Regions from separate parts of the Homo sapiens genome. Here regions 1, 2, 3, 4 and 5 are each reported to be linked to region 6. The links are microRNA targets in miRTarBase. Many come from high-throughput screens and were not tested one by one. Region 6 holds a microRNA gene; each other region holds the end of a gene's coding sequence.
The links. The annotated mature microRNA hsa-miR-520g-3p reads ACAAAGUGCUUCCCUUUAGAGUGU and lies in region 6 at 3,125-3,148, opposite strand. An mRNA with a match to its seed (bases 2 to 7 or 8) in the 3' UTR can be bound and repressed. Matches are read on the target gene's strand: a 7mer-m8 pairs with bases 2 to 8, a 7mer-A1 pairs with bases 2 to 7 and ends in A, and an 8mer does both.

Region 1 (5,240 bases), not on the chromosome of region 6:
ATATCCCTAAAATCACCATTGAGGCTTATGCAAAGCCATTTCAGGTTCTGCCAGTAGCTGTGGAGCCAAACAGGCTCAAGGTGCATTATAGGGAAGTGTCTATTTATATAAAATGAAGTCTCAAGGCAGTAAGTACTAGGCCACAGCAGTTTGCTCCAGCAAACTGTAATTTCCCAATAGTTCTGGCTTCCTATTTCTCACTCCCTGTCTCCAGTAATTTGGAGTCAAATGAACCCCTCTTCCAATCCATCCAAAGAGGTTCTGACTCCAACTTGGGAGTCACCACTTTTCAATAATAGACTCAGATCTTTATCCTTTTACCACAATGACTATTAACCACTGTCACCCCTTCTGTACAACCCAATTGCAGAAGGATCCTCTGTTAACATGGCCCAAAGCACTCTCCAAGGCACTTATGACTTCATACTCTATCAGCTTGTAGGACTTCATGTTCCCTTCTTGGGTCATATGCTGATTAATAAGCTCAGAGGCAGAATCTGTGTCCTGTCTGCTTTGGAACATCAAGAGTGCTTGACATAGTAGGTATCTGATAAATACTTCTTAAATTAGAAAAAAAAAAGAGAGAATTTTTAAAAATACAGAGCTAGCATAGAAAAAGATGCCCAGTGAGATTTTTTTTTAAAATGACAGTGTATTACATACTTAATTTGGTTGAGAAGTGTTTATTGTAAAAATGGAGTTTATAATGAAAATAAAAAATTATTTCATAACATTCTGATACCACTACACCTGAGTTCGATGCCAGCATGGTTTGAAAGTGAAGCTGATACAAGTTTTCTAAAGGATGTTAAAAAACTATAGTATGAAGAATGTAATAATATTTTAGAAGACATTAAAACTTAAATATTTAGATGCTGTATATGAGAAATCACACCAAGCTCTCTTAATTAGGTTAACATTAGACAACTACATCTCAATTTCCAAGCTTCCAAAAATAGGTAAAAAAATTATTTTAGTTTAAGTTGATATTAAAAACACATTGGGAGCAGGAATCCATTCTTTCAGGTTTTAAGAATAATGTTATGATTATTAGATTATTATCAATGATTAGAAAGTTAATGTCAAATATCTTCTACTTTCTTGGTTTTTTAACATTCGATTTTTTCATTAGATTAACATGCTAGCTTTTCCTGTCTTTCTGTTCTTGGGTAAGTGAATGATTTATTAGACCTGGTGCTCAATTTACGAGCTTTTCTCATTTCAACTTGAAGAAACTGCAAATATTTATAGAAGATGAATCACATGTATTTGTTCCTGAAAAATGTCAGAATACAGCACTCAAATCAAATGCCGAACAGAAGCTATTCCCTAACACTACATACTGTGGCGAGTTAATTTCCACTGACATGTTTTCCTAAACAGTTTTTCCCACTATGATTAATTCCCAAATCAAAAATTACTGAAATCTTTCATTAAGTGTGTATTCATGTTACCAAGATATAGAAATCTAAACAATCATAAAGAATTTAAGAATCACACCTTTAAAAACATATTGAATTGACTCAGTTAAATTACTCTTAATCCTAAAAAATACATAAGTTATGTTCCAACTGATTTTCCTTGCTTTTATTTTGCTCGCTTGCTACTTTAAGGGTGCTTTGTTTAACTCCACAATAAGATCCCAAGTCTAGAAAATTAGAATGCAGAGGAAATGAACCAACAGAGCATATACTCCACAAGGGCAGGGGCCATGGCCAGTTTTACCTGTTAATATATCCCTTCTGTCTAACACAGTCACACTCAAATTTGTGTTGACTCCAATTTAAGGTTATCACTATGGGTAGGAGGGCAAAACAGCAGAAACTTTTGAAGGCAATTTGGCAATACAGGTAAAAGGGCTGACATTTTACATACCCTTTGACTCGTAAGTCTATATCAAAGATTATCCTAAAGAAATAATTATATATGTGAGCAAGTACTTGGATTCTAGAATGTTCTAGGCCCTGAGCTTTTTAAAGTAAAACCCAGCCAACAACCCAACATCCTGGAAGGGGTGCCTAGAATGCCTCCCTCATCATAAATACAGGCTGAGTGGCTGCCACATACCAACCAGAGTTTGCATGCTTCACCCAAACCCCCAACAAACGTCTTCAACACTCACAGCCACCTTGTGAGGTAACAGACCTGCTCTCATTTCTTATCTTATCTGGTTGACAAAAAGTGAGGCACAGGGAGGTTAAATAACTTAGGAAAAGGAGGAGCCAGGTTTCAATCTGGCTGCCTGATCCCAGAGCCCCAGTAGTGCCTTCAAAACAATGTTGTCCAAAAAATGAATTTCTCGACTCTCCTGATCTTTCACCCATCTCCTTTTTTGATAACCCTCCTAGGGGATCATAATCAAAAATTCTCATAGGCACACCCCCACCAGCTGGCAGATCTCACTGATTTTGGTGATGCACAAACAGCAAAATCTGTGATTATCTTTAAAATATAAAAATTACTAAAATATGTTTTTCCCAATGTACTACCATTCTCCTAATTCCTAATTCCTCATTCACAACACTTGCTGTTAGCAGAATTATACTTCATGGTTTCGGAAGACAAATGTGAAGTCCTAAATAATATAAACAAAATGAAGTTTACTTGTGGTGGCATGATTCTTTTCTTTAAAATTTCTGTGGCCTGTCCAGGAGTGGTGGCTCATGCCTGTATTCCCAGCACTTTGGGAGACAGAAGCAGGTGAATCACTTGAGGTCAGGAGATGCAGACCAGCCTGGCCAACATGGTGAAACCCCATCTCTACTAAAAATACAAAAATTAGCCAGGCGTGATGGCACACGCCTGTAGTCCCAGCTACTTGGGAGGCTGAGGTGGGAGAATCGCTTGAACTCAGAAGGTGGAGGTTGCAGCGAGCTGAGATTGTGCCACTACACTCCAGCCTGGGCAACAAAGTGAGACTCTGTCTTTAAAAATAATGATGATAATAATAATCTTGTGTCCCATGGCCTATGAGTACGGGGACTGGTTGACCATCACCTGCAGAAATGAAAAGGCAGACTGACCGGAATTAGGCCAAGTGATTCCGGGTCCGGGGACAAGGAATTCCTGGGCAAGTACATGAAGCCTGGACTTCTCTCGGGGTGCTCATTTGGGAGCAGCGAAGTATAAAAATTCAAAAAAAAAATATTCACAGTAGATGCCAGGGCCTCGGGGTCAGGAGCTGGGATAAGTAGTTGGGAGAAGTGGGTTGAAAGGTGGCACCTGAGAGGCAGCAAAAGTGGTGGAGCCTATAGGTTTCTGCCTGGTGAAACTTCCGGTCAGGGCTTGTTTTAGCTTTTAGAAATAAACAAGTATAAGCAAACAAAAGTAAGCCAGAGAAAATACATCTAAAATCAAATGAGCAAGCAGTCAAGATTTTGTTTTATTTTATTATGGCTAGAAAGACACTGTTATAGCCAAAATCGGCAATGACACTAAAGAAATCCTCTGTGCTTTTCAATATGCAAATATATTTCTTCCAAGAGTTGCCCTGGTGTGACTTCAAGAGTTCATGTTAACTTCTTTTCTGGAAACTTCCTTTTCTTAGTTGTTGTATTCTTGAAGAGCCTGGGCCATGAAGAGCTTGCCTAAGTTTTGGGCAGTGAACTCCTTGATGTTCTGGCAGTAAGTGTTTATCTGGCCTGTGCATTTGAGAAAGAGATAGAGCCATAATGTTCCACAAATTGTAAAATGATCCAGAAAGCTAGTCAAACAGAAAAATCAGCATAAAACAGAATCACCTGTTTATTGTTTTGAATCCAGAGTTTATTTTTCCATAAGGGATAAGAAATACAAGTTCTTTTGAAAATAAGCTACTGTCCACTCTCAATTACATGGAGAATAAAGAAAAACTACTCCTCAAAAGCTTATCAGCCCTAAGGACATAATAGCTGTCAGTCAAAAGGACTGACTAAATAGATCAAACCAATGCTGTACAACTGAGAAAACAGCGCTGACTAGCCTTCACAGGTAGAAAGGAGATACTAACAATAAATCACAGAGCTGCAAACCAGCCAGACCCACTGGACCCAGATGTGAACAAGTACGGTAGGTTTTCAGTTTGTGCTTTGGGAACGTTAAGGAGTTTTCTCCTACGAGCCAGACAGAGTAAGAGTAAAGAGTTCACTTGAAGAAAGGGCTCCATCATTGCTTTTTATGTCTTTAATGATCTAATCCCATGCAACAGTTACATCAGTTACATACTTCTTCAAAATATAAGGATCTCAATTCTGTTTGAATTGGACCTTTGGGAAGGAATTGTGTCTCATTTCCAAATTTAATTTGTATGTACACTAGAAAATGTTAAGGAATTTGGAATTTCCTCCCACATTACAAATGTATCAATATAATTTGAGAAATTGCCAATCAGCTTTTGAGTAGGATTTTCACTTTGATAAAATCTTCTCACAGGTAAGGATCTGACTGAATCAGATGGCATTTAACATTTCTATAAGATTATAGCCAAATAAGGGCATGAATGTCATATATTCAAAATCAAGTCCTAGTACAGGACACAGGACCTCTCCTGCTTAAAGGTGGTATTAAACATTAAGTATAACCAGAAAAAGTTTATCCGGAAATACATTTGTGCTGCCACAATTTAAGTCCAAGTAAGGGAAATAATTTCCTAAATTCAAGTCAAGTACCCACTGTACAGTGCTGTGCTGGAAAAGGAAGAGTAAGAGGCCTGAGCTAAGTGGTCTTCTGCATTAAGACTGTAAACAATTTTTCTGGGTTTCCATGAAAAAGGACTCATTTTAGAAAGTTTATGCCATCTCAAAAATGTTTAGAAACACAGAGTGAAGCACTGAAAGGACCTGGACAAAAGAACAAACTCTTACAAGTTCTTAGATTTCAGATATTACAGGTGCTAGATTCAAATTCATCCTGCAACTATTTCAAACATACTAGCTTTTACGGCATGCTTTTCTGTTTGTAAATTTCTCACTGTCTTCTGCTTCCTAAGAAACGAACAAAACCAGCCAGGTTTTGCACTGGGCAACAATACCTGCAATGAGCAGCGAGTCCATCCTGGCAGGCGGCTGTGGTGGTTTGAAGAGTTTGGACAGGTCCTCCTCAGGGAGCGGGGGTTCTCCTCGGCTCTGGCGCTGCATATTCTCCTGCTGGCGACGCTGCTGATACTAAAATTCAAAGGGAAAATGGTTTGGTTATTTTTCTCCATCTGAGGAGGAAAAAAAGATGTCCTTCCCCTACACAACCAGCAGAACCCCACTGCTCTG
Region 2 (5,240 bases), not on the chromosome of region 6:
AGAAGGGCCAGGGCTGCTCTGGCTGTGTCCAGGGCCCCTGTCCTCAGTAGCAACTTGCATCACCCTCCCCATATGTGGTCTCCGCTTTGGCTGGGTAGCTCCAAGCAATTGCTGTTTTCTGACCTTCGGGAGCCAGGACCCACCTCTGCCCCTGTCTCCCATCCTCAGCTTACCAAGCAGTGCAACAGACTGGGCTCTGGGTTCGAATCTGAAGACTTTAGTTGAGTCAGTTCACCTTTTTCAGCCTCAGAGCCCTCATCTATAAAGTGGGGATAATGTTTATACTTACCTTACTGGGTTTTGTGAGCATGATGCCTGGTGCTTGAATTATAAGGAATGCTCAGTAAGTTCTACAATTTATTTTTTTTTTAGCAGCTTCCAGAGCCAAACCCTGTGATGGTCCCTTACAAATAGCCAGTTTCTGTAGGCTCAGCTTGTTTCTCTTCTGTGGAGAGCTGGTGTGGTCAGTTGTCCAGTCCCCAGAGTTTGTGCAGGGCTACCATGGCTGTGAGTGTGACCTGGAAAGTGCACCCTGTGACCATCCCTGACACCCATACCTATGTTATTTTCTAGGACTTGTGCCCTGGGGCTGCCTGGCATCTGGGGGCCTCCTCAGAGCCAGGGCTCTTTCTGGTTGAGGCTGAGACTCACTGGTGTCATCAGGCCCCTCCATGAATGAGACAAACAAAAGTGAGTGACAGTGGGAGGATGATGGGGGTGGGGGGCTTCCCCTTAGATGCTGGGGTTGGGGGAAGGACCCTACCTGCACTGCTCTTGGTTTCTCCAGGGAGCCCCCTCTGGGGCCCACCTATAATGCTGTCCCTTTCTCTGCAGCACTTGTTGGGCCTTCGGAGCTCCCCACAGCGTCTGCTGTGGCCCCTGGCCCAGGCACTGGGGCTCGGGCATGGCCTGTGCTGGTAGGATTTGTGCTGGGGGCTGTGGTCCTCTCGCTCCTCATTGCACTTGCTGCCAAATGCCACCTCTGCCGCCGATACCATGCCAGCTACCGGCACCGCCCACTGCCTGAGACAGGAAGGGGAGGCCGCCCACAGGTGGCTGAAGATGAGGATGATGATGGCTTCATCGAGGACAATTACATTCAGCCTGGGACTGGCGAGCTGGGGACAGAGGGTAGCAGGGACCACTTCTCCCTCTGAGCTCCCATCTTTAGACCCTCCCCACTCCCTCCATGCCTGACAGCTTAAGGACAGTGGTTATGACATGGGGGCCTTGAACCTCAGGGACAGAGGTGGCTGGGGCTTAAAGGTTGGCCAGGGATGGAGTAAACCCCACTTCCCTGACACTAGCCAGCAAAGTGACAATGACCCTCTCTTGCTCAATAACTCTCAACTGTTCCCTGCTGTTCTCAGGATAAAGCCAAACAAAGGCTTGAGTGTGGACATAAGGCCCTCTGTGATCATGCCTCTCGGCCTCTTGGTTTCTTTTCTTGCCTTCCCCTACTTTACTGTCGAAATCAATGTTATTCTCCCTCCCACCACTTCCCATGCAGTTTCCCCAGGCACCTTTGCTCACATTGGTCCCCCTGCCTACGCTACTCTTCTCCTAAATCCTCTATGACTGTGATGGCCTGCCTACCTGCCAGCATTTCAAATATGCCCAGATGGTAACATTTGTGCAGGTGAAAACCAGTGCCAAGCTTCCTTTTTTTTTTTTTCCTGAGACGGAGTCTCACTCTGTTGCCCAGGCTGGAGTGCAATGGCACATCTTGGCTCACTGCAACCTCCGCCTCCTGGGTTCAAGCGATTCTCCTGCTTCAGCCTCCTGAGTAGCTGGGATTACAGGCATCCGCCACCACGCCCAGCTAATTTTTATATTTTTAGTAGAGACGAGGTTTCGCCATATTGGCCAGGATGGTCTCGAACTCTTGACCTCAGGTAGTCCGCCTTCCTCGGCCTCCCAAAGTGCTGGGATTACAGGCGTGAGCCACCATGCCCGGCCAGCTTCTTAATGAAATATTTTCCTATAAATAAAGTGGGTAATCCGGTTATAATATGTTTTTCACAGGAATTAATAAATCTATTTTCATTTTGAATAAAAATAAAAAGCTGTCACTCATTTTTATTTTTCTTGAGCTGGGCTTTATCACTCAGAGCTAGAAGACACTGCTCAGATGCTCCCCCCTCCAAGACACCTTCCATGAGCCCTTCTCTAGTACTGTCCTGCCCACATTTTGTTTTCATCTTTTTGTTTGTTTTCAGGCGGAGTCTTGCTCTTGTTGCCCAGGCTGGAGTGCAATGGCGCAATCTCAGCTCACTGCAAACTCCGCCTCCCGGGTTCAAACAATTCTCCTACCTCAGCCTCCTGAGCAGCTGGGATTACAGGCACCCACCACCACCACACCCAGCTAATTTTTGTATTTTTAGTAGAGATGGGGTTTTGCCATACTGGCCAGGCTGGTCTCAAACTGCTGACCTCAGGTGATCCACCCTCCTCAGCCTCCCAAAGTGCTAGGATTACAGGTGTGAGCCACCACACCTGGCCATCTTTTTTTTTTTTTTTTTTTTTTTTTTTTGACACAGGGTCTCTCTCTGTCACCCAAGCTGCAGTATGGTGGGGCTATCACAGCTCACTTTAGCCTCGATCTCCTGTGCTTAAGTGATCCTCCCATCTCAGCCTCCCAAGTAGCTGGGAATACATGCATGTGCCACTGCGCATGGCTAATTATTTTTTGTAGAGATGGGGTCTCACTGTATCACCCAGGCTTGTCTCGAACTCCTAGACTTTAGTGATCCTCCCACCTCTGCCTCCCAAAGTGCTGGGATTTACAGGCTTATTTTAATCTTTATGACGGTTCGTACTTGCCTCTTACTATGCCTGCCCCCATAGCTAAACTGGGAGCTCCCTGAGGCCCCAGATTGTGTCTTATTGTGTATCCTCAGATTCTTGCACAAGGGAGCTAGTTTTAAGATGGAAAAGACTTGAGTTAAGCTGTTTTTAATTGCAAGCAATAGAAAGGAGTTTGGGGGAGAGTCCTGGCTGTTGCATAGAATCAAAGGGACAGCAGGAAGCAGGCGGTCCCAGCAGCCAGAGGTCAGGCATTTCACCCCTAGCATCCTGTCGTTTAGGGGCACTGATGGGACTCTCTATAACCAGGACTTCCAAACTCTCAGTTCCAAGTTTCAAGTGCTCAGAAAAGAGAATCAATTTGGCCCAGTTTGGGTCAAGTATACATAGGCTTAAAGCACAATCTGCTATGAGTGGGGGGCATGGTTTGGGGAGCCCATCTGTTTGTTCCAGATCATTCTCAGACAAGGGGCAGTTCTCATGAGCCAGGCAGCCACCCCCATGTGTTCCCCAAGTACAGTGTCAGCCTTTGAGGAATGAGCTGGTACAGAAGGAAAGTGAGGCATTGGCAAATGTAGTGAGGTGCTTGGGAAAGAGGCAGGAGATTGAAGAGGACTTGAGTGTCGTATCTGAGGGGTGCCCATGGCAGTGAGGAAGCCCAAGAGTGGATCTGTTAGGGCCTTGGATGCCAAGCTCACACTTCAACCTGAGAGCAATGGAAGCTCATCTGTGGACTTTTTTTGTGCAAGGGCATGACATAATCATGATAGAAAAGTCATTCTGGCTGCTGTGCAGAGATGGATTGGAGGGGAGACACCGAGAGAAGGTAATAAGACCTGTCTAAGGTGTGACATAGGAACAGACTTTGAGACAAGAGGGAGGAAGAGCTGATAGGACCTGTTGACTTTGGATATGGGGAGTAGGTAGGTATCAGAAAAACGCACCCTGGCTTCTGGCTTGGTTACTGGGTACATTGACGAAGAGCAGGTTGGGGCAATGGGGATTCAATGTTGGATACAGGATTTCCAGGGGAGATGCCTCGGGGCTGCTGGGTTCACAGGGAGAAGTCTAGTCTGCAGACACGGGCTTGGGAACACTTGGCACCAGGGTCATTGAGAGCAGGAATGGATGAGATCGCCAGAGAGGAGCGGAGCGGGAAACACATCTCAAGACTGTCAGCGGACCAAGCCCTGGCAGGGGAGTTGGAGGAAGCAGAGAGGAGGGAAGCCCAGCTCACATGACCCCCAACCTGGCCATGGTTCCTGAGTCCAGAGATGGTCTGCCCCTCACAGGCCTGGGGAGAGCAGAGGCTGCCCCAGCCTGAGACCCTGGAGGAGGACCCCAGAGGCTGACCTAAGGGGCATGTCCTGGCCTACCAGGAAAAGCTGCTGCCCAGGCAGCTGAGCCTGCCCCCTGCCCCTGGGCTCCTTCAATTCCCACCACAGAGGAGCTGCCCTGCGTGCAGTTCTATGCTTGGCTGTCCCTGTTCTCCTGTACTCTTTGGGGCCTCAGTCAGAACCTCTGATGGACCCAGGAGAAGAAGGTAAGGGCCTGATCCCAGACTCGCAGTTGATTTTGCTGAGCCTGTGCCCCACAGGGTGCCCGAGCTGGGGCTTCCCCTCAGAACCAGCTGTGGGTGGCAAGCCTGGCTGAGGAGGGCCCTGTAGTCACAAGAACCTTGGACCCTGTCCTTCAAGGCCTTGATTCCTTGGAGGAATTTCTTCCCACTGTGGTTTGCATGCCTGACCCCAAGTGCAAAGAGGGAGCATGACCTGAGCCCACAGCCGCAAAGGGCTGGGGGTGTTGGGAGCTTGGGATTCAGCCAGGCCCTCTCTGGTTTGGCGTCTTCTGGCTTCGGGTCCTGGCCCCGCCTGCCTCTGCCCCTGGCCCTGCACCTTGTCCTCCACTCCTTGGCAGCTGCCACTACCTACTCTGCCTTGGGAATCCCAACCCAGCTACCCACTGTCTCATCCTGCTGCCTCAAAGGCAAGGCTACATCCCTTGCACTGTGTGGAGGCCAAAGATGGAGTCACACAAAGCCACCAACATGACGTTTAAGAAACTCCAGCAGTAAGCCGGGTGAAGTGGCTCACGCCTGTAATCGCAGCACTTTGAGAGGCCGAGGCAGGTGGATCACGAGGTCAGGAGATCGAGACCATCCTGGCTAACACGGTGAAACCCTGTCTCTACTGAAAATACAAAAAATTAGCCGGGCGTGGTGGCGGGCGCCTGTAGTCCCAGCTACTCGGGAGGCTGAGGCAGGAGAATGGCGTGAACCCAGGAGGCGGAGCTTGCAGTGAGCCGAGATCACACCACTGTACTCCAGCCTGGGCGACAGAGCAAGACTCAGTCTCAAAAAAAAAAAAAAAAAAACAAAACAAAACACCAAAGAAAAAACACTCCAGCAGTATCCTAGCAGACTGGCAAGGTGAGTT
Region 3 (3,000 bases), not on the chromosome of region 6:
ATAAATCATTTTTTTTCTGAGTTAAGTTTTTAAAGTGTTTCAAATATGGAAATTTTGTCTACCTAAGATAACAAAGATTTTCTCCTGTGTTTTCTTCTAGGAGTTTTAAGTTTTACATTTAGGTCTATGATCCATTTGGGTTAATCTTTGGGTAGAACGTAAGGTACACATTCATTTTATTTCATAGATCTAGTTGTTCCCGCACCACTTTTTTTTTCGGAAGAGTTTTCATTCCCTCCTTGAAGTGCCTTGACATTTTGTCAAAAATAAATTAATGCTTATATGTGTGGGCAAAATGGTACATGATACATTTAAATAATTTGTCTGTAAATCTCAGTGGGATACCTGAATAAAAGAGTGGGCCAACCATTAAAAATGATAATTACATGATTACAAATCTCTTATTTTCATTAAATATAGTTTGCTTTAAATTATTTCTTTATGACTATTCCAAAACAAATAGAAAAATTTTCTTTGATTCTAAAAACCACATGACTGGTAACATCCATATTATGAAAACAAATCATCCTATATGTTACTGAGTGTATGGGTTTTTTGGTGAACACAAGTCTTGTTCCAGATATTTGAATTTGATAATGTTCACAGATTCTAGAATTTTCTTTGAATGCAAATACACTTGGAAGTGACACATATACAGAGAAAACCAAACCCTCAATTTTCCTAAAAAAATCCAGACCTATAGCATTGCTAAAATAATCATAATTTAACTTTTTATATTAGGAGTACCAAAGTAAGCCAATATTTAATTCTGTGACAGAGGAGTATGAAAAAGAAAACCCAGTGGCTATGAAAACAGAGATCTAAAAATTTAATGATTTAAAAATAGCCTCTACATACAAGACGGCAAAGAGTAATACAGATTGAACATTTGGTTTTAAAAATGTGAAATGTCTCCACTTAGCGTAGATCAATCAAGTCAGCCATCTCCTAAGAAATACACATTATACAATGAAATCTACAAAGACACACTTTTTAACTTCAAGCGTTGTTGATTTTCAGCAACCCTCTTCCCACATGAACATTTCCTTGTAATGTAATGTATGACTTTTAATCTTCTTTTGGCAGAGTAGGACTTTGAGAATTATAATAGCAGTTGTTTTGAAAAGCACCTTCTATGATCATTTATTTCCACTGATTTTTTTTTAATCACTCTGAGATCATGCATTCTTGTTTTTTAAATCCTTTTCTGTTCCAATGATTTGGTTGTTTAAAACAAGCAAGCTTAATTCAGTCAGGCATATATTGCAAATAAAAACATGTTTCCAAGTAGGCTGGAATAAAAATGCTAAATAAGAACTGGGCCAAAAGATCATAGATAATGTGCTTCTTCTCTTGGTAATATGTGAATACATTTACCCATGGGGTAGAAGTATTTCACCTGCCCCATGAAGAACCTGATGGCTTGTGGTGTCTGTGCTGTGTCAATACTAACAGATGTGAGGAGACAGACTATGGAATGGACGCTGTGACTATCTGTGAGATAGTGGAAGGGGTTATACACACTGGCCACAGGAAGTTGCAAAAATTAGATGGACTCTGTGTAGCTAGCCACTCTTGAGTGTCAGGTCTGCATATGTGAGTTTTAAAGAAGGTGCAAGATAGCAATAAATTCCCTTAGAGAGCAGGATATGTCCTGGTAGCTCTATAGTTCCATGATCAAGGACCTGGCCAGTTTCCCTCAGGTAATGGGGGTAGTAGCACCAAAGTGAATATTAAGAGTCAGAAAGGCCTCTACTTGCAACTGGCGGATCAAACCATTCCCCTATTTTGGTGAACAATCATAGTCTGATACGCCTTTGTAAATCTTTGCTGCAAATATGGTTTTTACAACTCTAAAAACATCTTTTGGAAAACCTCATGACTGAACCACTCACAAATGCAGAAGATTGAACAGCCCCAGGGAGGCAATTGCTCTCCTTTTATTGTAGCTGTCTCTCAGTATTGAAACAACCCAATCCTAACTGTGGTCCTGGCCTCTAAACACACAGGTCTCTCTTCCCTCCAGCACCTGAACTATCAGAGCTTGGATCCACATATATATTCTGAAATTTGCTCCGCAAGAGGGCTTTTGGGCACTTGGCCATCATGTGTTTAAGATGGTCAGTTTTGAAAAGAGTTTTCCAAACAAGAATAAGTCATGCTATGCCTCATGATTTGGAAGGTGAACACTTGCAAATAAACTATGCTTCCCAGATTTGGGAGTGCCAGGCTCAGAATCATCACAAGGACGTGGAGAACAATATTATAACCAGCTGGTATGTTTTTAACAACAACAAAAAAAATGCAGCATTAGAAGGTGCTTACTAAGGTGCTTCGTAATTCATGGTTTTTTTTTTAATGAAATGCATCAGACAAACATCTACAAACAAACATGAATACATGGGCATACAAAAGCACGTGGACAAGTTTTCTGTACAGTTTATGTCTCAGATACTTCTATGTATACATAAGAACCACTCAGGGGGAAAAAAAAAGATTTCCCTCTCCAGCTCCCTGAATTTCTGAAAGTTGACTGACCCATAAAATGTTAAAATATTTCATTTTTATATAAAATATCTACAAAAATAGATAACATTTACAAAAACCAGACAGTATTTCCAGTTTTCCTTAGTAACCGTTAACGCAGTCCCCTTCCTCTTTTTTTTCTTCTCAGAACGTTGCCATCTCCAGCAAAGAGCGCTTGAACAGCTGGGCATTTCTAGAAAGGTCTGTCACTTGGTGCACCATTTCCTGCAGGGCCGTGGTGCTGGGGTAATGGAGGGCGGCCATCTTGGTTGCCATGACTATGGTCTTGAGCTGCTCGCAGAGCTGGTTGCTGGAGTTCATGACTTTGTTGCGAATGTCCTGGGCAGTCACCTGCCGTGTCAGCGTGTCTCCAATGAACACCAGTTTGTGTGCACTGAGGATGACAAACTTGCTGTGTGCCACGAAGATTCGCGGGGGCTGGGCTGAGCTGACACAACTGAAGAGTGCGTCAAT
Region 4 (5,240 bases), not on the chromosome of region 6:
TTATACATGAGATCAACCCCTGCTGTAGTCCTCTGTTCACCCCTCTTTTCTGTCCTTTCTTGTTGTTACTTCAGAAAATCTTCAAACTTGAAATCTTTCTGTTAGCATTATGAAGAGGCTCGTCATCTTGCCCCATCCAAATGTTTTGCTAGGGTAAAACAGACATTTTTATTTTTAATGTCTTTCAGACTGGATGACTATGCCTGCCAGTAAGAAATCTACTGTCAAGGCAGAGATTCCTGAAGAAGAATTGGATCAATGGACAATAAAGGAAAGATTCAGTAGCAGTAGTCACTGGAAGTGTGCTAGCCTGCTGGAGTGGCAATGTGGAGGCCAGGAGATCAGTTTGCAGCGAGTGGTACTCACTCACCCCAACACCCCATCACAGGAATGTGATGAATCCGGGAGCACTATGAGCTCATCTCTTCACAGTGATCAAAGTCAGGGATTTCAACCTAGCAAAAATGCCTTTGAGTGTAGTGAGTGTGGAAAAGTCTTCTCTAAGAGTTCAACTCTTAATAAACATCAGAAAATTCATAATGAAAAAAATGCAAATCAGAAAATTCATATTAAGGAGAAAAGATATGAATGTAGAGAATGTGGGAAAGCCTTTCACCAGAGTACGCACCTTATCCATCACCAAAGAATTCACACTGGCGAGAAACCCTATGAATGTAAGGAATGTGGCAAGGCCTTCTCAGTGAGCTCCTCACTTACGTACCATCAGAAAATTCATACTGGAGAGAAGCCTTTTGAATGCAACTTATGTGGAAAAGCTTTTATCCGAAATATACACCTTGCCCATCATCATAGAATACATACTGGAGAGAAACCTTTTAAATGTAACATTTGTGAAAAAGCCTTTGTGTGCAGGGCACACCTTACCAAACACCAGAATATCCACAGTGGAGAGAAACCCTATAAATGCAATGAATGTGGAAAAGCCTTTAATCAGAGTACAAGTTTCCTTCAGCATCAGAGAATTCACACTGGAGAGAAACCCTTTGAATGTAATGAATGTGGGAAGGCCTTCAGGGTGAACTCTTCCCTTACTGAACATCAGAGAATTCATACTGGAGAGAAACCTTATAAATGTAATGAATGTGGGAAAGCTTTCAGGGATAATTCATCCTTTGCACGACATCGGAAAATTCACACTGGAGAGAAACCTTACAGATGTGGCTTGTGTGAGAAAGCCTTTCGGGACCAATCAGCACTAGCCCAACATCAGAGAATTCATACTGGGGAAAAACCTTATACATGTAACATATGTGAAAAAGCCTTCAGTGACCATTCAGCCCTTACCCAACATAAGAGAATTCATACTAGGGAAAAACCTTACAAATGTAAAATCTGTGAGAAAGCCTTTATCCGAAGCACTCACCTGACTCAACATCAGAGGATTCACACAGGAGAGAAACCCTATAAATGTAATAAATGTGGGAAAGCTTTTAACCAGACTGCAAACCTCATTCAGCATCAGAGACATCATATTGGAGAGAAGTGATATGAATGCAGTTTGTATGGAAGACCTTTGAGACTGAGTAGATGAATTATTGAATGTGAGATAATCCGTTCTAGAGAATAACTATGAAAGCTTGCATCAAGATAGTCACTTTATTTACTGAGGGTCAGGTTTCACAGTGTCATGGGGTTTGGGCATTTAAGAATGGCAAACACTCGGCTGGGCACAGTGGCTCACGTCTGTAATCTTTGGGAGCACTTTGGGAGGCCGAGGTGGGCGGATCACGAGGTCAGGAGATCGAGACCATCCTGGCTAACAGGGTGAAACCCCATCGCTACTAAAAATATAAAAAATTACCCGGGCATGGTGGTGGGCGCCTGTAGTCCCAGCTACTCGGGAGGCTGAGGCAGGAGAATGGCATGAACCCGGGAGGCAGAGGTTGCAGTGAGCCGAGATCGTGCCACTGCACTCCAGCCTGGGCGACAGAGCAAGACTCAGTCTCAAAAAAAAAAAAAAAAAAAAGAATGGCAAACACTCCTCATTCTTTAATACTGCCTCAAATAGCAGTACTGTTTGATTTGTCTGAATTACCAAGCATCAGAACCAAAATGGAGCTTCATTAACAGCATTAAAAAATTGGTTTATCAAATTACATTTTGACTATTAGAGAAACTGAAATTGTAAAAATTAAAGCTGAAAAGCAAAGGAACAAAAAGGTAAAATGGCCTACGAGCGTTGCACTCTACTAGATTCTCTTACATAAGAGAGTTGCCAGCTTTAATGGAAGCCTTAGTCCTCTCCTCACCCACACCACCGACACCCAGTGTAGAGAAAGTACGTCACCCACACTTATTTAAACCATGCTTCCTGCCTTTTGCTTCAAACCATCCATTGTCAGATCTCTCTGGTCTGTCTGCTGGCTTCATCCCTGTAGAATCCCTGTGAGACGATTCATTTGCCCCAAATGACCCTCTTCTGACTTAGCAACGCCTAACTGTCTGCATGGTGCCACCTATCACTGCCCCTATGGGGAGTGTGGTGGTCTGGTCTCAGACACAGTCCATGATGTTGAATATCACACCCAAATCCAGCCTTCAGAACTTGGTATCTCTGTCCAGAAGGCACAACTTGATCAAAATTCTTGAGTTATGCATTTCCTCTGGGCTTCAGCTTGACTGATCCTGGGATGGCACCTGAAGGAGGGGCTTTGCCTGTGCCGCCTTTACCCTCCAATTGTTCTGTACTTAGTGACTCTACACATCAGTCAGGGACTTGCTCAGCTTCAGGTGCAATGATCCCACCCACTTACGTTGTACTATTCCCAGTCACCTCCATCTGTCGCTGCCCATTTCTCTATGTGCAATTGATATAAGAGGTGAAAGCCCCAAGGCCAGTTCTCAGAATGCTCTGACCCACTCTCTTCCCCTGGCTGTACAGTCCACTGTGTCCACTGCATTAGAGTACATTTACTACTCCCAGGATAAACTGCTGCATCCTGGTCCTTCCCCTGCTTTTTCTAGGTTTCTGGAGGTAGTAATTCTATATTCATAGGAAAGCAGACAGCTTTGAATTTCTGCTTTTGCATTTGGAAGTGGTCATTTCCTCTCCTCCATCTGGGCCTTCCACTATTTAAAGACTCATGCTGACAGTGGTGAGAAAAATGTTGAGTAATTCCATGAGTCAAGAAGTGGTCACTAGCACCATTGATATTCTCTGGCAAGGGCCATGTCCGTGTTCAAAAGTTTGAGTGGTACAGTCGTCCTGCAAGTATGGTTCCTTTACCCTGTTTTTTTTTTTTCTTTTTCTTTTTCTTTTTTTTTTTTTTTGAGACAGAGTCTTGCACTGTCGCCCAGGCTGGAGTGCAGTGGTGTGATCTCGGCTCACTGTAACTTCCACCTCCTGGGTTCAAGTGATTCTCCTGCCTCAGCCTCCCGAGTAGCTAGGTCTACAGGCACCCACTACCATGCCCAGCTAATTTTTTGTATTTTTAGTAGAGTTGGGGTTTCACTATGTTGGCCAGGCTGGTCTCAAACTCCTGACCTTGTGATCCGCCCACCTCGGCCTCCCCAGGTGCTGGGATTACAGGCATGAGCCACCGCACCCGGCCACCTTCCCCGTCTTTAATCCTTCAGTGCTTTCAGTAGAAATCACACAGATAAGTAACATCTGTGCATCACACACACACACACACACACACACACACACACACAGCCTCTGAGGGCCCTCTCCCTTTTCCTACCACAAGGAATGGAGGAGCCTTCACTACTGCAAGCTGGAATATATCATGCAGTGAAGATGGGAGGCCAAGCAAATTTTTCTGGAAAGTGAAGTGGCAAGTTCCTGGTATGTGGAAGTGCTGTCCGTCAAGTTGAGCAACCCCCTGACCCCTCAGAATGGAGCACCTCACCCCCATGTTACAGAAGAGGATATTCTATATCATGGTAGAACTCAGTGGGCTCTGGGTTGCAACATAGACTTGGAAGCTTCCAGCAGCTTCAAAGTCCAAGTAATCTAAATTCAGCCTTCATCTAATAAAGGCCACCTTTGTGGGCCAGCATCTCCTGTTAGCTGATCAGCAACTCAGACTTTCTTCCCTATTAAGCTGCATGTGAAGCAGTATTTCAAGAGGTTTCTTGGGATTGCTTGTGTCCCATGTCCTCAGAAGTTCATCTGCAGCTTCACGCAGCTGACACCCTCAGATTCCAGAGTAAACCTGAAAAAACCACGTTCACTGCTACAGATGTCTGTCTTCACCCCATCCATGTAATGTGCCAGGTCTTAACTACCACCCCCTTACCTTGAATCCCTGAGAAGCACGTTTCTAAGCTGAGTTGGTTGGTGGTTTTGTCTATCTGTAATGAACGCATGAGAACTACCACTACTTGGTATGTGCCTACCGTTGAGCCAGGACCAAGGCGTGCAGCCACTTGAGTCTCATTCACCTCAGCCGCGGCTCCAGGAACTAGCGTCAGCGGCATTAAGTGCAGGCTGAAGGCCCCCATCTGAGAAGACAGTGCACTCTCCCTGAGTTCGCCTCTCATCAGGCTTGGGTTTTCATGAAATCAGTCCTCCGAGATGCCTGTTCACTCATCCCTGTCTGGAAAGGCAAAAAGTACGTCACTGGCCTATTAGATACGCCCAGGCTGACTTGAATATATTGATGGTACTAGTACTTGGCCAGGCAGTGGCTTTACTGTATTACACTGTAGGATGACGAGCTCACTGCACGGCCTTCTCGACTAGGGGAGGGGACACTGCCTGAGTCCCAGGCATACTTTTCTCACGTGGATGATACTGCTCTCTACCTGGGCATTCTCACCTGCCCCAGCTCAACCCCTAAAAGTACATTTCTGAGGACCCTGCAGTAAGACTTTTTCAGCCACAGTCTTCTCTACCAGCTGATCTGTGTGGTGTTAGACATTTCAGTACTTACTGAGAGGGAGTTTTCTGTGCCCCACCTTCAGCTGGGTTAATCCCCAAAGAACCAGTGTTTCCTAGAAAGAGCAGTTCATTCCATACCTTGCTCTTGTAGTCCTAATGGCCATGTCGACATACCCAGCTGTGACAAGATGAAGGACCACGATTTGGGACTCTTCAGGGACAGACTTGGCCACCTGGTGATGTGCCACCTTCAGCAGCTCTGTCTTCACACGTCCAGCCTGCGCCTGCTTCATGTAGTACACAAGACTGCTCTGGTACACCACGACCATGACCTTCACATGAGGCCAGTCTCCCCGCCCCTCACCTGGGCCATAGAAAAAGGTAAGAGCCTGAG
Region 5 (5,240 bases), not on the chromosome of region 6:
GCTGTTAGTAGTATCATAACTGTGTGAAGAAGCAGAAAACACTTTGGACTGGGGGATGGAAATCTTGGCCAGGGTTCAGTATTCACTTGACTTCCCGGCCATAACATCGAATGAATGGCCAGGACTCTCTTTGAGTAAATGAGCTTCTGAGAGGCTCCTAAAGAGGCGACCCCCATCCCTCACGGCTGAGAAGAGTGTGATCATCGTTTAAGGTTAAGGTCCAGGTTGGAAGACCTCCCCAAATTTAAACCTTGCTACAAAGTATTCTTTCATTTACTTTGAACCCTTCCTTCATTTACATCCCTTTAGGAACCAGGCCCTGTAGTGCTCAAGGAGGGTGGGAGAGTGAAACGAAAAGGAGTGAGATGCTGCTTCTGTTCTCGAGGACTTCACAGTCAACTTGCGGTAAGTGCTGCAGGGAGATGGCTGTAGTGGCTTTGGGAGTGTGCACACTTTTCCAACAGAAAGTACCAGGAACCCTGCCTGGGGAAGGCTTCCCGGAGGAGGTGAGGTGGAGCTGGTCCACGAAAATTGAGTGGGATTTCCAAGACATCAGTCTTTCGCGGGAAAAGAGAAATTAGGGCATGGTTTTAATTTAGTAAATATTTATTAATCAAGTACCCCATTCTAGGGTCCGTGCTAAGTGTCTGGGGTTGGTAGAGTCAGGAAGTATAAAATCAACTTAAGACATTTGGGAAAGATCTCCCTTTGTAGTAAGGAAGTTGAATCTGTACACAATGAAAGGAAACAAGGTAAAAGGCGCGAAGTCCATGACCATGACGAGGGCTGTGAGAACTGTAAATAGGGATTTGGGCAGTCCCGGCTGATTCTGAATAAAAGTCCGGAGGGGCGTTACTTTCGGGTCTCGGCCTGTGTGTCCCCAGCCCTTTGTTGTCCCCTCCGCAGGAAGGTGAAGGCTGTTTATGTAATCGGCGGCGCCTCGCGGGCGACTGGGGGAAGTGGATGGGGGAGCCTGGCCAGGGCTGACTGAGCGCCCCTGGAATCCGTGCTCCGGGCGTTGGCTCACTCCCGCCCCGACACCTGGGCCCGCCCTCCCGCTGCGCAGCCACGCGCCGGGCAGCAGCGTGGGCTGGCGGGCGACTCCCCACGCCTCCTGCAACACCGCCCTCTCCCTACCGGAGCGAGGAGGCAGGAAAAGCCTAGAGACGCCTGGTCCCATCCGCCTACCCAGTCCCCAGCCGGCCTGAAGGGAGGAAGAGGAAGGAACCCATAATCATCCCAAACTGGCGCAAATGGTGGGTTTTACTGTCCAGAGGTCATTTCGTCTCTGCGTTTCCAACCTCCTCGCCCTTTTACTTTTTTTGGGCTCACTCAGGAAACTGGAGCAGTCCTTCTCTGGGTTTAACTTCAGTCCCTCACATGGCAACACTAGGAATGATCAAGACTTTTGTTGCGGGTAGTGGTGATGTGGGTTTGAGAGGAGGATGCATCTGGTCGTGGGATTAATTTTGGTTTCTGAGTATTACGAAGAACTAGAAAAGTTTTGCGTATGTCGGTTTTCAGGATGGGGTTCAGATGGGTCAAAGCCCTGTGCAGGTCCACGGGGGCTGCAGGAGGTAAAATGGAGGAGGAGACAGGCGGACAAGCTGGGGTCAGTGGTCCACTCCCCTGTGTCTGTCTTAACCGAGATGCAGCTGGATGCTTGCACGTGGCAGCTTTTTCAACCACCTGTTGATAGACGTTCGTTTCCAGTCTTATCCTGTTACCAACTGTGCTGCAATGAACAGCCTTGTGTATAGCCTTTTAGTGTATTTGAGCCTTTCTTTTCGACCCAGGCATATTGTAAGGAGAGAGGAACTGAGATAGAAGGAATATTTAAAGCAGGGTCAGAGAAATCAGGACTGGATCAGGAGGAAGCCCGAAGGGTGTAACCTTCCCATAGGGCTGCTGGAAGCCTAGCTTCAACCCTTCCAGCTGCAGCACATCCCAAACTGGGGCGAGAAGCGAGTGAGGAGGAGATGCAGAGGAAGGCAAAGAACAACTCTAGCGACCCAGGGTGATCCGGGTGCCGGAAAACAGAAGCTGGAAAAAGGAGATCTGCCCCGGAAAGGAGGCATGGAAAGTGTAGATGTGGGTCCTCGAGGTGGCGTCGTAGAAGACTACCTCTCCGCCCTAGTAATCCAAGCGGACGCCCACTTTGTTCGGACAGATCGGGAGATCCTCCCGGGAACCGCTCTCGATGAGCGCCTGGCACTGGGAGCCGCTGCTGTGCAGCTCCACGAAGCCGGTCAAGGGCTCCACCTCCAGGAAGCCCCGCCTGGGAACCAGCTCCAAGGCCAAGCCCCGGCACGCAGGCCCCGCCCCCGGGCCGTTGGAGCTCCGCCTCCCAGGCGCCGCGGCCGGAGCAAAGGCCCAGCGAGCCCAGCACTCAGCGGAACCTGTAGAAGCGTCGGGGGTTGCCCCGCTTCTGCGAACCGCCCTGGGATGCGAGGTTCAGCGTCACTATCTCATCCTGGGAAAGGATGAGATCCGGGTGGGCCGAGGCTGCGTCCAGTGTCACAGGGGCTGTGTGAAGATGAGGAGAAAGAGGTGGCCAACCCCGGGTCAAGTTGTCCAAACCCCCTACCTTCCTCTGATACCCCCGTCCCACCACCCGCCCCGCTCGATGCCGCCAGAGAGGCTTTCTCTTCCCAGTCACAGCCTTTGTGGTCCCCAGAGAAGTCTTAGGCCCGGCACCGCCTCCTCCTCCTCAAAGTTAATCCCTAAATTTCACAATGTGTTGTTCTGTGGGCGCAGAGAGAAGTTCTTCATTGGTGGTGGTGGTGAGATCATTTCAACACCCGAAGATGAGACCATCTCTTCCTTGTCCATTTCCCGTGGCCCCTAATTCCCATGTCTAAGACAAGAATTGAGTCTAGTATAAGAGGGTCAAGGCTCAGACTTTCTGAGGGCCAGTAATTTTCTAAAGTGGAGTTCCTCAAACACAGGGATGAGTGAAAGTGTTGGAATACAAAAGGAGGAATAGTCATCCCCCGCCACACACACATACACTTTTACTAGGATTCCACGTTCAGTCGCAGTTTATTAAAGTTAGAAGTGTCTCCATCCACCCCCTACAGAGGCTTGCGTGGTGGTTCCAGTCTGCTAAATATTTCAGAATGGGGACCTCATTCTATCTACTGATTTATCAAATCTCATTAATTAATTTCCCTTGCTGATATGAGGGGTTGGGAGAGAAGGGGGACGTGGGAATGTAAGGAAGAGCGAGAGTGGTCGGGCTCATGGGGTTTGATGGACTGTGACCCAGGCTGGCGTTGCTCCTCTCCGGATTTCACTCCTGGCTGAACTGGTGCCTTCGGTAAACAGCTGCTTAAAGAGTGCGGGGACTGCTGCAGGGACTTCCTTTTTCCACTAGGCGGCACCACAGCCAAAGTGATAAGAAGTCAAGCGTGGGGCGGGTGGCTGGAGATTGTCTCTTCCCCTCCTTTTGCTCAAGAATTCGTCCATTCCTTCTCCAACTCTCTTCACCACCACCCCCGCCCCCATCTCCACTCTCAGTAGCCCGAGCCCTCCCATTCTCCACTCCTTCGACCCAATTCCACTAAGTCAAGAACCGTGGTCGGTCTCAGCCACTCACTCAGCGCCACTCTATGCTCCGAAGTCCGTGTAGCACCACCGCTCCCCGTGTTCTCTGAGCTGGCTTAGCTTGAAGGAACCTCACAAAACCAAGCCCGGATCGCTGTCAGCCACTCACTCAGTGCCGCATGGAGCTCCTCGGACAGCGCAACGTCAAATGTCTTCGTATCCTGAGAGCTCGCTCCTTGACCAGAAATCTCATCATAAGAGGCCAGGAGACATACTGGAAAAGTGACTTTCCCAGCAGACGAGGCCCGAAACAGGGAGTGGGATGGGGCTGAAGAGTGGTGATTTGGTGGCCCCGATGTAGTTCTGCCGCCTTTGCGGGAGAAGGAAAGGAGAAAAGAGGTCAGCGGGAGCACCTCGGCAGCAATCCTCCATTGCCAGACAGCACAGCTGAGCTCTACATACAGCAGGAGGGATGGAGGTGAAACTCAAGAAAGTACACCTGAACAAGTCGGAGCGCCCTCTGTTTCCTGGCAGAGGTGTAATTTGGGGAGGAACTGAGGAAATGGAATAAATGAATTCATTCATTTATTCATTTATTCCATTTAGTGGAATTGGGTGGATACAGCATTTTGACCACCTGTAGACTTAGAGGTCCCTTAGTATTCAGAGACAGGACTCTTACCTGCAGAAGATGACCCGGGCTCTGAGGTTTTGTTCATTTTATGATTATTTTTCTGTAACAAGCCCCCTAAAAATTGGGGAGAGAAAACCTATTTGGTCTTGATAACCAGAAGCTGCAAATTAAAAACAAAAACAAGCACCCTGCCATCATCAATCAGAACAGTCAATGGTTCTCAGTGGGACCCATTCCCCACCCAGGGGGAAGTGTGGAAACCTTTCAGGTTGTCTCAGTGACAACAAGAGTGTGGTTCTCTACTGGCTTATAGGGCTTTCTGGGGCCTGGGATACTAAGCATTTAACAGGGCAAAAGTCATGGAGCATAACAAAGATGGCCTTTCTAAACACCGGTAGCTCCTTTTGTGGAGAAATGCTGGTGGAATAGGATCCCTAAATCCTGCTCTCTGGCTTTGGAATGCATTCTGTAGTTTCTGGCTTTGGAGAAAGGAGTTCTAATTCTCTCTCTTTCACTTAATGATCATATGACCTGGGTAACTTACCTCCCCTCCCGGAAGCTACATGGACCTCACTGTAAGTTGCAGATAATAACACCTATCTTGGAGGATAGTTGTGGGGTTTTGAAATATTAGATGCGCACATAGTGGTCCTTTAAGAAATGGTACTTCTACTGTTATTGTCTTAGGTGGCAGAACCATATCTAATGACTTTAGCACAGGCTGTTATTACAGTGGGTCTCCATCCCCTGAGCTGTACTGACCTCACACCCAGAGGAGTTTGCCTCGAAACCTGCTGCCCTGTAGGGGCAGCAAATACTACAGAGGTGGAGCTGCCTCCTTCTTGTCCCACTTTTTCCTCCCTGTCTCTAGGAGTGAAGAAATACATTTGTAATTTTCTATTACTTCTGAATACTTCAAAGTTTGGGATTAGTGACTGTTTTGTGAGTTACCTGAGTTTAAAATAATAAAACAACCATATGCCTGTTCTCTCAATTGGCTGAGGAATCGGCATTCACTTATATCTGGCCTTCATGTAATCATAGAGACACAATTCTTCCC
Region 6 (4,552 bases):
ATGCATTTATTGGCCCTGTTTGCACATTTTCTGGAATCCAGAATATAAACCCTTAAAAGGACCATCTCCAGTTCCTTGCTTCAAAGTCTCAGCAGGTTAGCTTTGTTCATCAAGGGGCAATCCTCCTGAGTTTTGTCTCCAGAAAGAAAAAGCAATGCCTACTACGTGCACCTTATATTTAACCAAGAGAATTGGGCTGGATTTCTAGAAAACAGCAATGAACTTAGAGCCAAGTGTTCACTCGAGTTCCAGTACAGGGACACACAGTCCCGATGGGAGCATCCAACATCGAGTCTACGATGTTGAAGAATATACATTGTCATGCACACAAACATCCTCCAGGATGGACCACAGGCTTGGTTATAAAAACTCCTCAATAAAATTTGAACAGGAACACACAAATACCAGTGGGGTGTGGTGGCTCACACCTCTAATCCCAGCACTTTAGGAGGCTGAGACAGAGGATCACCTGAGCTTGGGAGGGAGTTTGAGACCAGCGCCTGCAACATGGTGTAAACCCATGTGTATAAAAAATACAAAAGTGAGCCAGATGTGGTTGTGCATGCCTGCAGACACTAATTCAGCAGGATTAGGTGGGAGGTGGAGGTTGCAGTGAGCCGAGATGGCACCACTACACTCCAGCCTGGGCGATAGAGTCAGACCTTGTCTCAAAAATAACCAACCCCTTTGTAGGGACATGGATGAAACTGGAAACCATCATTCTCAGCAAACTATCGCAAGGACAAAAAACCAAACACCGCATGTTCTCACTCATAGGTGGGAACTGAACAATGAGAACACATGGACACAGGAAGGGGAACATCACACACCGGGGACTGTTGTTGGGTGGGGGTAGCGGGGAGGGATAGCATTAGGAGATATACCTAATGCTAAATGATGAGTTAATGGGTGCAGCACACCAGCATGGCACATGTATACATATGTAACTAACCTGCACGTTGTGCACATGTACCCTAGAACTTAAAGTATAATAATAAAATTAAAAATAAATATATAAGTAGGGATACAAAAATATGACAAAAAAAAAACAACCAAACACAGACACATGCAAACAAAAAATACGCAAGGTGATATCAGAGTATTCTCTGTATTTAGAAGAGTATTTTGTGTGTACATGATTATATTATATATGATAAGAATATATAAAATATACATGATATATTTTTGAGACCCTGTCTCAAGGAAAGTTCCATACATCGCATACTCACAGGAAGAATAATTCCTACACAAGTTCTTGCTTTGGTAGTGCACATAAAAAAAATTGGAATGACAGAGATTACCGTGGCTGCTCCACAAAGGTGACACTCAAATTCACGACGGTCCCGTATTTATCTACGTATTTTTATTTGTTTTATTTATTTTTGAGACGGAATCTTGCTCTGTGGCCCAGGCTGGAATGCCATGGCTTCATTACAGCTCACTGAAATCGCCTCCTCCTGGGTTCAAGTGGTTCTCCTGTCTTGGCCTCCCGAGTAGCTGGAATCACAGATGTGCACCACCGCACCCAGCTAATTTTTGTAGTTTTAGTAGAGACAAGGCTTTGCCACGTTGGCCCCGTTGGTCTTGAACTCCTGACCTCAGGTGATCCTCCCGTCTTAGCCTCCTAAAGTGCTGGGATTACAGGCGTGTGCCGCTGTGCCTAGACTATTATTTACTTTGTTGACACTGAGACTCACTCAGTTGCCCAGGCTGGAATGCAGTGGCGCAATCTCAGCTCACTGAAAGCTCAGCCTCCTGGCTTCAAGCGAGTCTCCTGCCTCAGCCTCCCGAGTAGCTGGGATTACAGGTGTGTGCAACCAGGCCTGGCTGATTTTTGTATTTTTAGTATGGACGGGGTTTCACCATGTTGGCCAGGCCGGTCTCGAACAACTGACCTCAGGTGATCCTCCTGTCTCGGCCTCCCAAAGTGCTGGAATTATAGGCAGGAGCCACCATACCTGGACTAGTCCCATCATTAAAATTAGGGGGAAACAAAGATGCCCACACCTAAATAGCGTATCATTTATTGTTTAAGCACATCTCAAATACATTGTTTATCTAAAACACAAGTTTAACTGAGGGCCGGGACGAACCAAAAAATGGTCCTTACTTTCTTCCTGCCTGTGCATGGGTTAATATTTACATGTAGTCCCATCTAACAAGGCCTGGGAGGGGCAGAGGCAGGAGGATCTAAGACCACTTTAGCCAGGGCAGCATAGTGAGACCCCCGTCTCATGCATTTATCTCCTGGTCATGCACCCAAGATTTCAGCTTCATTTCCCCAATACACACTGAAGCCCCATGCACTCCACCTCCGTGCTCTTGCTCATCCCATCTGCAGGGACACTGAGGTCCCCTCAACTCCACCTGACCCCATGTGAGGTTCTATACCAGTGCCAGAAAAATTTCCATAAAGTAAGAGGTGTTGATGGCCACGCACCATGGCTCACGCCTTTGGGAGGCGCGCGGTGGTGGCTCATGCCTGTATTCTCAGCATTTTCGGAGGCCAAGGTGAGTGGCTCACTTGAGGTCAGGGGTTTGAGACCAGCCTGGCCAACATGGTAAGCCCCATCTCTACTGAAAAAAAAAAAAAAAAAAATTCAAAACGTAGCCAGGCGTGGTGGCGGCCACCTGTAGTTTCAGCTACTTCAGAGGCTGAGGCAGGAGAATTGCTTGAACCTGAGAGGCAGAGGTTGGAGTCAGTCGGGATCATGCCACCGCTCTCCAGCTGGGGAAACGAGACTCCATCTCAAAAATAAATAAATGAATAAAAAAGAAAAATACAAATATTAGCCAAGTGTGATGTCGGGCCCCTGCAATCCCAGCTATTCAGGAAGCTGAGGCAGGAGAATAGCTTGAACCCGCGAGGTGGAGATTGCAGTGAGCCAAGATCGTGCCACTGCACTCCAGCCTGGGTCACAGAGGAAGACTGTCCCAAAAAGGACCATATGAGCCCAAGAGACCTAGGTTGGAAGTGCCTCTGTACTCCAGCCTGGGCCACAGAGACCCTGTCTTAGAAAACAAAAACAAAACAGAACCCCAACATCATCCAAGTCTGATAATAAGCATGCAAATATATTACCAACATCAGCATCAACTTCAACACTGCTTTTCCCAAACGGTAACACTCTAAAGGGAAGCACTTTGTTTTTTCTCAGACAACAAACAGAAAGTGCTTCCTCTAGAGGGTCACAGCATGGGATCTTCTTGCTCCAGCACTCTGGGTTTCTTGTTGGAATTTTCCTTGACCAGGTTAAAACGGATACAAAAATAAAAATGCATTTATTGGCCCTGTTTACATGTTTTATGGAATCCAGAACATAAACCCCTGAAAGGACCATCTCCAATTCCTTGCTTCAAAGGCTCAGCAGGTTAGCCTTGTTCATCAAGGGGCGATCGTCCTGAGTTTTGTCCCCAAAGAGAAAAAGGAATACCTACTACTCATACCTTACATTTAGCTAAGAGAATTGGGCTGATGTTGAAGAATATACATTGTCTCACACACAAACATCCTCCAGGATAGACCAGAGTCTAGGCTGACTCTAGAGGACCACGTGAGATTAGGGGCGGTGGCTCACGCCTGTAATCCCAGCACTTTAGGAGGCCAAGGCTGGTGGATCACCTGAGGTCGGGAGTTTGAGACCAGCCTGCCCAACATGGTGAAACCCAGTCTCTATTCAAAACACAAAAATTAGCTGGGTGGGGCAGTAGGCACCTGTAATCCCAGCTACCCAGGAGGCTGCGGCAGGAGAATCGCTTGAACCCAGGAGGTGGAGGTTGCAGTGAGCCTAAATTGCAACACTGCACTCCAGCCTGGACATCAAGAGTGAAACTCCATCTCAACAACAACAACAACAATAAAAATAATAACTAGCAGGACACGATGGCGGGCATCTCTATTCCCAACTATTCGGCAGGCTGAGGTGGGAGAATCGCCGGAAGCTGGGAGGCGGAGTTTCCGGTCAACAGGGATCCTGCCGCTGCACTCCAGCCTGGGAAACGGAATGAGAGCGCATCTCAAAAAATCAAAAATAAAAAGATCACCACTTGAGCCCAAGAGATCTCGGTTGGAGGTGCCACCCACTCCCGCCTGGGCAACAGGGAACCTGTCTTGGAAAAAAACAAACCAAAGAGAACCCCAACATCATGCAAGTCTGATGATAAGCACGCTCTGCAAATGTATTACCAAGATCAGCAGCATCTTCAACGTTGCTTTTCTCAAACAGTAACACTCTAAAGGGATGCACGATCTTTTCTTAGACAACAGACAGTGCTTCCATCTAGAGGGTCACAGCATGAGGTCTTCTTGCTCCAGTACTGTAGGGTTCTTTTTTTTGTTTTTGTTTTTGTTTCTTTTTGACGGAGTCTTGCTCTGTTGCCGAGGCTAGAGTGCAATGGCACGATCTCGGCTCACTGCAAGCTCCGCCTCCTGGGTTCAAGCCATTCTCAAGCCTTAGCCTCCCGGGTAGCTGGGACTACAGGCACCCACCACCACGCCTCGCTAATTTTTTGTATTTTTAAATAGAGATGGGGTTTCACCGTGTTAGCCAGG

Region 1: the mRNA of EIF3H is a reported target of hsa-miR-520g-3p. Seed matches in the 3' UTR shown: 7mer-m8 at 2,909-2,915.
Region 2: the mRNA of C1orf210 is a reported target of hsa-miR-520g-3p. The part of its 3' UTR that is shown has no 7-base or 8-base seed match.
Region 3: the mRNA of NEDD9 is a reported target of hsa-miR-520g-3p. Seed matches in the 3' UTR shown: 7mer-m8 at 1,723-1,729.
Region 4: the mRNA of ZNF454 is a reported target of hsa-miR-520g-3p. Seed matches in the 3' UTR shown: 7mer-m8 at 1,721-1,727.
Region 5: miRTarBase lists TRIM31 as a target of hsa-miR-520g-3p. Seed matches in the 3' UTR shown: 7mer-m8 at 3,390-3,396.

The regions. Positions count from the first base shown.
Region 1 is chr8:116,641,463-116,646,702 of GRCh38, forward strand. EIF3H (eukaryotic translation initiation factor 3 subunit H) reads right to left here. Exons shown (of 8, transcript NM_003756.3): 7 at 5,009-5,141; 8 at 668-3,641. The coding sequence ends at 3,544. Among named protein-coding and RNA genes, the nearest start is that of EIF3H, 110 kb to the right of the region's middle.
Region 2 is chr1:43,278,702-43,283,941 of GRCh38, reverse strand. It overlaps C1orf210 (chromosome 1 open reading frame 210), which reads left to right. Exons shown (of 3, transcript NM_182517.3): 2 at 574-690; 3 at 835-2,065. The coding sequence starts at 672. The coding sequence ends at 1,157. Among named protein-coding and RNA genes, the nearest start is that of C1orf210, 4.3 kb to the left of the region's middle.
Region 3 is chr6:11,182,492-11,185,491 of GRCh38, forward strand. NEDD9 (neural precursor cell expressed, developmentally down-regulated 9) reads right to left here. Exons shown (of 7, transcript NM_006403.4): 7 at 807-3,000. The coding sequence ends at 2,671. Among named protein-coding and RNA genes, the nearest start is that of NEDD9, 49 kb to the right of the region's middle. RefSeq lists an enhancer at 2,533-3,000.
Region 4 is chr5:178,964,467-178,969,706 of GRCh38, forward strand. It overlaps ZNF454 (zinc finger protein 454), which reads left to right. Exons shown (of 5, transcript NM_001178089.3): 5 at 189-1,967. The coding sequence ends at 1,507. Among named protein-coding and RNA genes, the nearest start is that of ZNF454, 26 kb to the left of the region's middle.
Region 5 is chr6:30,099,874-30,105,113 of GRCh38, forward strand. TRIM31 (tripartite motif containing 31) reads right to left here. Exons shown (of 9, transcript NM_007028.5): 8 at 4,229-4,294; 9 at 3,024-3,916. The coding sequence ends at 3,663. Among named protein-coding and RNA genes, the nearest start is that of TRIM31-AS1, 2.7 kb to the right of the region's middle. RefSeq lists enhancers at 546-1,055, 2,543-3,042.
Region 6 is chr19:53,720,816-53,725,367 of GRCh38, reverse strand. MIR520G (microRNA 520g) reads right to left here and starts at 3,202; the gene lies at 3,113-3,202. It overlaps MIR517B (microRNA 517b), which reads right to left and starts at 4,292; the gene lies at 4,226-4,292.